Linked DNA regions of Homo sapiens: region 2 is linked to region 1. The links come from fine-mapping of genetic effects on gene expression. Tissue or cell type: whole blood. Region 1 holds a variant in brackets; the other region holds the start of a gene. All regions are shown on one strand. Distances are from middle to middle.

Region 1 (4,158 bases):
TGGTGAAACGTTATATCCACGTGCTGGTGTTTGCACACACACACACACACTTGAACAACCCCACAGTGAAAAACCAGGGTGTTTTCACACTCACACTCAAGCATGATCCCACTTACACACACAGGTTTTCCCCACTCACACGTGGTAATCCGGTCTCACAGAGACACACACAAGAGCATCCATTGTCATTTGTGCTCTGGCCAAGGTCCCCAAGACCCTCCTCCTGGCCACACACACACACAGGGGTGCACAGGTGAACACGCCACCAACGCCCACAGCTGCAAAGATTCCAGGGCGCACAGACACGGTGGGAGGAGAGTGAGAGGAGGGGAAGCAGATGGGGCCGGGGGACTCAGGAGGGAACGGCCCCGCCCTGACCACTGCCCGTGTCCACCCCTGCAGGGATCCCAGGTGCCGTCTACATTGCCTGTGCAGGGCCTGGCTAGAGATCCCTTCCCAGTCCTGGAGAAAACGTAGAAATCCTGGAGAACCTGCATTGCCTGGAGGGAGGGAAGCCTCCTTCCTTCCTGGAGGGGCTGGGAGCGTAGCAGTGTGAGGTGCAGCAAGAAGGACCTAGGACAGACCTCCACTTTTAGCTGGAGGCCACACAATCCCCACAGCTGGGGAAGGAAGGGGAAAGAAGGGAAATGGACTCAGAGAGAGGCAAAGAGCAGCCCAACGTCACACAGCTAGGCAGGCCCTTCCAATCAACCAAAGCAACAGACAGCCAGCGCAAGGGTGTGTGTTTCTGGCACCTTCCTTGGTGATGCCAGGAAATGTTGCTCATTATCTTTATGCACAGGCAACGCCCTGGCACCCCCACTCCCCTTCCCACCGAACTCCCCAGGGGACACCTGCCGGGCACACCCAGTCCCAGGGATAAAAGCCTCTGTCCTACAGAACTCCCGATCTCAAAGAGTAGCACCTGAGAGATGAAGAAAGGGAGGGGGACCCTCTCTCCATGTAGGCATCTCTTCTAATCTTGGGGAGGCCTGGAATTGGGGCCTATCTTAATTTGGCAAACTCCTACTCTACCCTGAAAGCCCTAGCTCCTACAGCCCCTCCACCAGAAACCCTTCCCTGCTACCCATCTTGGCCACCCCCAGCCATGGGTGCCTTCCTCTTGCCCAGCCCTGTAAGCGTGGTGTCTGTGCCCATGACTGTCTTTGCTGGATGGGAGTTTCTAGAGGGACATCTTCGGCTGAGTTTTTGCAGGGCACAGGGCTGACTTTGAGAATTCAGTTTACAGAGGGGTGAGCTTGCTGCAGATCCCAAGTCTGCACACTTTTGCCTGTGGGGGTGCTGCCCTGCATACACTTCTCCTTCCTCTCCGTTTCACTCCTGGTCCTCCTGTGACTCAGTTTCCCCATATATATATATATTTTTTGAGACGGAGTCTGGCTCTGTTGCCCAGGCTGGAGCGCAATGGTGTTATCTCAGCTGATTGCAACCTCTGCTTCTCAGGTTCAAGCCATTCTCCTGCCTCAGCCTCCCAAGCAGCTGGGACTACAGATGCCTGTCACCATGCCTGGCTAATTTTTGTATTTTGTCTTTTGAGACAGAGTCTCACTCTGTCACACAGGTTGGAGTGCAGCAGTGCGATCTCAGCTCACTGCAACCTCTGGCTCCCGAGTTCAAGCGATTCTCCTGTCTCAGCCTCCCGAGTAACTGGGACTACAGGTGTGCGCCACCATGCCTGGCTTTTTTTTTTTTTCAGACGGAGTCTTGCTCTGTTGCCCAAGCTGGAGGCTGGAGTGCAGTGGCATGATCACAGCTCACTGCAACCTCCGCCTCCCAGGTTCAAGCAATTTTCCTGCCTCAGCCTCCC[G/A]AGTAGGTAGGATTACAGCCATAAGCCACCATGCCTGGTTAATTTTTTTGTATTTTTATTAGAAACGAGGTTCCACCATGTTGGCCAGACTGGTCTAAAACTCCTGACCTCAAGTGATCCGCTCGCTTCGGCCTCCCAAAGTGCTGGGATTACAGGCGTGAGCCACCGCGCCTGGCCAAACTTTTATATTTTTTAGTAGAGACAGGGTTTCACCATGTTGGCCAGGCTGGTCTCAAACTCCTCACTTCAGGTGATCCGCCCGCCTCTGCCTCCCAAAGTGCTGGAATTATAGGCATGAACCACTGTGCCCAGCCTCCATCTGTTTTTTTTTTTAAATTAAAAAAAATTTTTTTTAATAGAGACAAAGTCTCGCCATGTTACCCAGGCTGGTCTCGAACTCCTGGCCTCAAGCGATCCTCCCTTCTTTGCCTCCCAAAGTGCTGTGATTACAGGTGTGAGCCACCATGCCTGGCCTCCCATCTTCAATAGGGCACGAAGGGTGCCACCCAGCACTGTAGGAAAGCCAGAGAGGACCTGGAAGAGCTTGACCAAGTGGCTCTTGTGCTCTTGCCACTGCCCATGGGTAGAGGATGCCAGGCCGTGAAGCCAGAACATGCCAGTGGGGAAGTGCCTGTGTGTGTGAACGCCGCGGCATACATGTGTTCGCGCGCCTGTGCCTCTGTTTTCCCCAAGTGCTGATAGCTCGAGGGCTCACAGCTGGGCCTGTTCCTAGGGCAGCCTCCTGGTCTCCTGTTCCTAGATCGCCCCTAGGAGTTCCCTGAGGTTCCACTGGTGGAGAAACTGAGGCCCCATGAGGGGCAAGACTTGGCCAGGGGTCTGGGCCTCTCAAGGCAAGACTCAGTGATTCTGCAAAACACAAAACAAATTCCACAGCCCACAAAAATGTGCCCCCTCCCTCAGAGGGCCCCAGGGCCTGGGCCCACCCCATGGGAGGGATGAGGCAGCCAGGACAGCCTCGAACTGGCGACACACATCTGGGGGCAAACCAGGAACATCTGGCAAGCACAGCTGGTTCCGATACTGCGTCTGCGGGGGCCAGAGGCCAACCTAGGGGTGGCTTCATGTGTCAGGGGGTGCAGACACAGACACCCCCAGCCGCCCCTTCCAGGTCTGCCGGAGAAAGAGGTCCAGCCTCTCCTCTTCTTCCCCCAGCACAGAAGCTGAGTGCTGCCCAACTGCTAGAACTATCGCTGGCTTCCTGCTACCCTGGGCATCAAGTCCCAGCACATGAGCTTGTCTTGAGGGACTCTGGGTCTGTCTTTGCCAAAGTGAAGCTGAGGGATGGATGGTCAGGGATAGTGGTTTCTGGGGAGGAGTATGGTGGCTCCTTCATGATAATAATAGTGGTAAAATAATAATAATAATAATAATAACTGGGCCCGGCACGGTGGCTCACACCTGTAATCCCAGCACTTAGGAGGCCGAGGCGGGTGGATCACGAGGTCAGGAGATCGAGACCATCTTGGATAACATGGTGAAACCCTGTCTCTACTAAAAATACAAAAAAAATTGGCTGGGCGTGGTATTGGGCGCCTGTAGTCCCAGCTACTTGGGAGGCTGAGGCAGGAGAATGGCGTGAACCCAAGAGGCGGAGCTTGCAGTGGGCCAAGATCGCGCCACTGTACTCCAGCCTGGGCAACAGAGCGAACTCTGTCTCAAAAAAATAAATAAATAAAATAATAATAATAATAACTGGGCCGGGTGCGGTGGCTCACAGCTGTAATCCCAGCACTTTGGGAGGCCAAGGCAGGTGGATCACTTTAGGCCAGGAGTTCGAGACCAGCCTGGCTAACATGGTGAAACTCCATCTCTACTGAAAATACAAAAAAAAAAAACAAAAAACAAATTAGCCGGGTGTGGTGGTGCACTCCACCAGTCCCAGCTACTCAGGAGGATCAGGCAGGAGAATCACTTGAACCAAGGACATGGAGGTTGCAGTGAGCCAAGATCGCGCCAGTGCACTCCAGCCTAGGCGACAGGGCGAGACTCCGTCTCTAATAATAATAGTAATAATAACTGAAACTAACACTCATGAACAACACTATTAGTGCCATTCTAAGCACTTTACATGTAGTAACTTGTATCAAGGTATGGACTATTTTATCCCCATTTGGTAGGTGGAAAACTGAGGTCCAGAGAAGTGAAGTAACTTGCTCAGATTCAAACAACCTAAGTGGCTGAGCTGGGATTTGAACACAGGTGGTCAGCAAACTCCTACTCATTCCTCAAAGACTCACTTCCAACACTCCTCCCTCCATATTCTTTTTTCTTTTATTATCCAATCAATGGCTGCAAAACCTCTATTTTTT
Region 2 (4,158 bases), 28 kb after region 1:
GGGACGCCTCGGGCATTGGGGCCTCGCGGTCGACCCCGCGTCCCTTCCTAATGGCTCCTCTCCTCCCATCCCTCCCTCTTCACCTCCACACCTCCCTCTGTCTCCGCCTGTGTCTCTCTCTGTCTCTCTCAGCCTGGCTCTCTTGGTCTCTTCCTCTCTGCGTCTCACTCTCTGCCTCCTACCCTGCGTGGCGGCTTCTCCCCCAGCTCCACGGCCGCTCTCGGGAGCAGCGCTACACCAAGCTAGCCGACTGGCAGTACATCGAGGAGTGCGTGCAGGCCGCCAGCCCCATGCCCCTGTTCGGTGGGTGTTCCGGGAAGCCACCTCCCTCTCCCCTACCACCCTTGGTCACTCACACCTCTGGGCTGTTCGCCTTCCCACTTGGGACCCCCTCGTACCACCCTGATGGGAGCCACTGGGTCAGCCAAAACTCCTGAAGGGCTGGTGAGCAGAACTCCAGGGTCCCACCTGCCCATGTCTCCCTGAGACCCCAGCCTCTGTCTCCTCAGGAAATGGGGACATCTTGTCATTTGAGGATGCCAACCGCGCCATGCAGACTGGTGTCACCGGGATCATGATTGCCCGGTAAGTGCCCAGGGATGTTAGAGATCCAGCTTCATGCACAGCAGCAGTGCCCTGAACCCAACACGCCGTCACCCACCCCTGTTCTGTGGTGGGCTGTTGGTCCCAAGATGGGAGGAGCAGAGAGCGATGTCAGGAGTTGCAGCTGCGTTGCGGCAGAGGGGACTGGAAATTGCTGCTGCTGTGGGATCTGATGATTGTGGGTTGAAAGTCCTGGGCTTTGGCCAGGTGTGTGGCTCACGCCTGTAATCCCAGCACTTTGGGAGGCCAAGGCACGCCGATCATTTGAGGTCGGAGGTTCAAGACTAGCCTGACCAACATGGTGAAACATCTCTATTAAAAATACAAAAATTAGCCAGGTGTAGTGGTACACGCCTGTAATCCCAACTACTAGGGAGGCTGAGGCAGGACAATTGCCTGAACCTGGGAGACGGAGGTTGAACAGTGAGCCGAGATCTTACCACTGCACCCCAGCCTGGGCGACAGAGCCAGACTCCGTCTCAGAAAAAACAAAAGAAAGTCCTGTGCTTTGAAGGTTGTGTGCATGCAGCTGGGAGGCTTACTAGGCTTGTAGGTTTTGTGGTCTGGGCTCCGGCTCAGGCCAGGCCATGGAAGCAGAGGCCACACGATCCCAGGCAGGCTGGTGGCTGGGCCCACTGATCGTCACCCGTCCCACAGTGGCGCCCTGCTCAAGCCGTGGCTCTTCACGGAGATCAAGGAGCAGCGGCACTGGGACATCTCGTCGTCCGAGCGCCTGGACATCCTGCGGGACTTCACCAACTACGGCCTGGAGCACTGGGGCTCGGACACGCAGGGCGTGGAGAAGACCCGGCGCTTTCTGCTCGAGTGGCTGTCCTTCCTGTGCCGGTGGGCACCGGGGCTGGCTGGGGTGGGCGGCGCGTGGGCCGCGGCTGGTTAGAGCTGACTCAAGCCTGTCCTGCCCGCCCACCCGCCGCAGGTACGTGCCCGTGGGGCTGCTGGAGCGGCTCCCACAGAGGATCAACGAGCGGCCGCCCTACTACCTGGGCCGCGACTACCTGGAGACGCTGATGGCCAGCCAGAAGGCAGCCGACTGGATCCGCATCAGGTGCCTGGGTGGGCTGGAGTTGGGGAGCTGCAGTCGGGGGCCCGGGGTCACGGAGGGTACTTTGCAGGTCCTGGGCCTGACCTCGCTTTCCACCTGCTCTCCCACAGCGAGATGCTCCTTGGGCCAGTGCCCCCCAGCTTCGCCTTCTTGCCGAAGCACAAGGCCAACGCGTACAAGTAGCCTCAGGCTTTCCCAGGGGCACCCTGGGGCGAGGAGAGTACAATAAATTTTATTCTTTTAAAATCCAGGCCTTTCTGTGACCCTGAAGCAGCCCCTCCTCGGCCCCCACCTTCCCCAAACCTCTTAGCTGCCTCCATGGGCCCTGCCCCAAGCTGGGTGCTGCTGGTGCCCAGAGAGGCCTTGACCCCCAAGAAGGTAGCGGGTTGAGGACCCGGGGGGCCTCAGCCTGTGTGGGTGTGGATCAGGGCAGCCTGCCTGGAGGAGGCGGCCTCAAAGCTGTTAGGGGGGTGTTGCTGGAAGAGGCAAAGGCCTGGCCCAGAATCCTCCCTCCCATGGTGATGACCATGTCTGCCAACGTCTGCCCCTGCTTGCCCCCAACACCCAGAACCCCAACCAGTGGGCGCGCTGCAGGCTGGAACCCGCTGCCCCGAGTAACCAGGCAAACAGAACCCCACCAGGTTCTCAGCCTGTTCTCCGGTTGGGCCACTTGCACTCCCACTGCCGCCCTCCTGGCCTGTCTGGACCGGGCCCCCCGCTGCCCCATGCAGCACCCCAAACCGTTCTGTGCCCCTGCAGCTCCCCAGGAAGGTTTCAGCCCGCAGAGTCTGGAGGGGGCTGAGGTGCTGGGCAACCAGCCTGCTCCCACCTGTGCCGAGCCTCCTCCCGCTATGGGTACGATCGGGTGGGTGGGAGCACCTGCTGGAGAGGGTTCAGGGGCCCACCCGCCTAAGGGCCCTACCCACCTGGGCACCTTTGTCCACAGGCTCCTTGAACCTGTATCATCCCCCAGACCCAGAGAAAGAGGTGTTTCCAGCCCCACCAGCAGGTACCGGCCTCCCCTGAGCCCTTGACGAGGCTGGGAGTGGGTTTGAGTGTGCAGGCCCATCTTGCCCCTGCCCCGTCCCTAAGTGGGAGCCTGAAGGCATGGCCTCTGCTCCCCATGCTTCACACAGGTCCCCCAGATGAGCCCCAAAGACAAGCTCTGTGTCATCCATCACCCAGCCAGGGCCCCAAAGCAATATCTATGTCGTCCCCCAAAGGGGCCCCCCAATGGCAAGGTTCTTGTGGCATCTCCCAAACAGGCCCCCAGGCTTGGGCTGGGCCCCTCAGGCAGCAGCTGCTCTCAGGGCACCCGCCTGCCGCCCACAGGTTTCCAGATGGCCCCATGCGGGTGCTTCTTCGACCCCCGCATCTATCGGATCGAGTGGACCACCCCCGACCTGGGCCAGTCAGCCCTGTATAAGCTGGCAGCAAGCAGCGGGGGGCCAGCGGGGGTCCCCTCCGCCCCAGGCAGCTACCTCCTGGAGCCTCAGCCCTACCTCAAGGCCCCGGGGCTGCCTCCATACCCCCACTACCAGCAGGCACCCGGGGGGCCCCAGTTTCTCTTGCCCTACTTCCCGCCTGAGGGCCCCGGGCCAGAGGCTCTGGGTTTTGTGGGGGACGCAGGGCCCGCCGCCTTCGTGGAGCTGCCCCTACCGCCCCTAGAGGAAGGCCCGGCCCCGCTGCCACCCCCACCCCCCAAGGAGAACAAGCCGCCCCCTGTACTCATCACGCTGCCTGCAGAGCCCACACTGCCCCCAGACGCCTACAGCCACCTCCAGGGTCACCTCGGCCACTTCCCTGGGCCCGAACCCCTGGCCTTCCCCGTCAAGGAGCTGCAGGGCAGTGGGGCCCGACCTGGGGTGCCCCTGTACCCACCGGGCCTCAGCGAGCTCAAGGTGGCCGAGGTCAAGGAGGGGGCCCTGCTGGGAGCAGGCAAGGCCAAGGCCCCCAAGACGGCCAGAGCTTTGGCACTGCCTGACAAGGTTCTGCTGGAGGACGCCATGAAGCTCTTCGACTGCCTGCCAGGCGCCTCTGAGCCTGAGGGTACCCTGTGCGAGGTCCCTGGGCCGGCCCTGCCTGACAGCAGTGGTGGGAACTCAGCCGATGACATCCGCTCGCTGTGCCTGCCCGAGGAGCTGCTGTCCTTTGACTACAGCGTGCCTGAGATCCTGGACACCGTGTCCAACGTTGACTACTTCTTCAACTTCAAGGCGCTCGACGAGGAGCAGCCGCCCCACCCGGGGCCCCCTGCCACCAACACCCCGGCCCCCATTCTGTCTGGCAAGAGAAAGGCCTCGACGGCCAAGAAGGGAAAGCCGGGAAGGAAGGCCAGGCAGCCGGCAGGCCCAGCCAGCGCCACTCCCCCGGGGCCCAGGGAGGACCTGGGAGCCACCCCGCATTAAAGCACATTTGACCTTTCAGCTCCATGTCCACGTGGGGGCCTTGGGGATGGGGAGGGGGCTGGAGATGCACGCCTGGCCCCTCAC

Evidence for each region. PIP is the estimated chance that this variant, and not a neighbour inherited with it, causes the effect.
Region 2: it holds the start of PRR22, and the variant in region 1 is fine-mapped to the expression of PRR22 in whole blood (INTERVAL, PIP above 0.99).

What each region holds. Positions count from the first base shown.
Region 1 is chr19:5,811,237-5,815,394 of GRCh38, reverse strand. All of the region lies in intron 1 of NRTN (neurturin), which reads right to left. Among named protein-coding and RNA genes, the nearest start is that of NRTN, 8.2 kb to the right of the region's middle. The variant G/A (reference allele first, on the strand shown) is at 1,829.
Region 2 is chr19:5,782,894-5,787,051 of GRCh38, reverse strand. It overlaps PRR22 (proline rich 22), which reads left to right and starts at 2,306. Exons shown (of 3, transcript NM_001134316.2): 1 at 2,306-2,521; 2 at 2,613-2,675; 3 at 2,999-4,092. The coding sequence starts at 2,392. The coding sequence ends at 4,074. It overlaps DUS3L (dihydrouridine synthase 3 like), which reads left to right. Exons shown (of 13, transcript NM_020175.3): 9 at 207-303; 10 at 510-585; 11 at 1,261-1,449; 12 at 1,541-1,669; 13 at 1,777-1,912. The coding sequence ends at 1,849.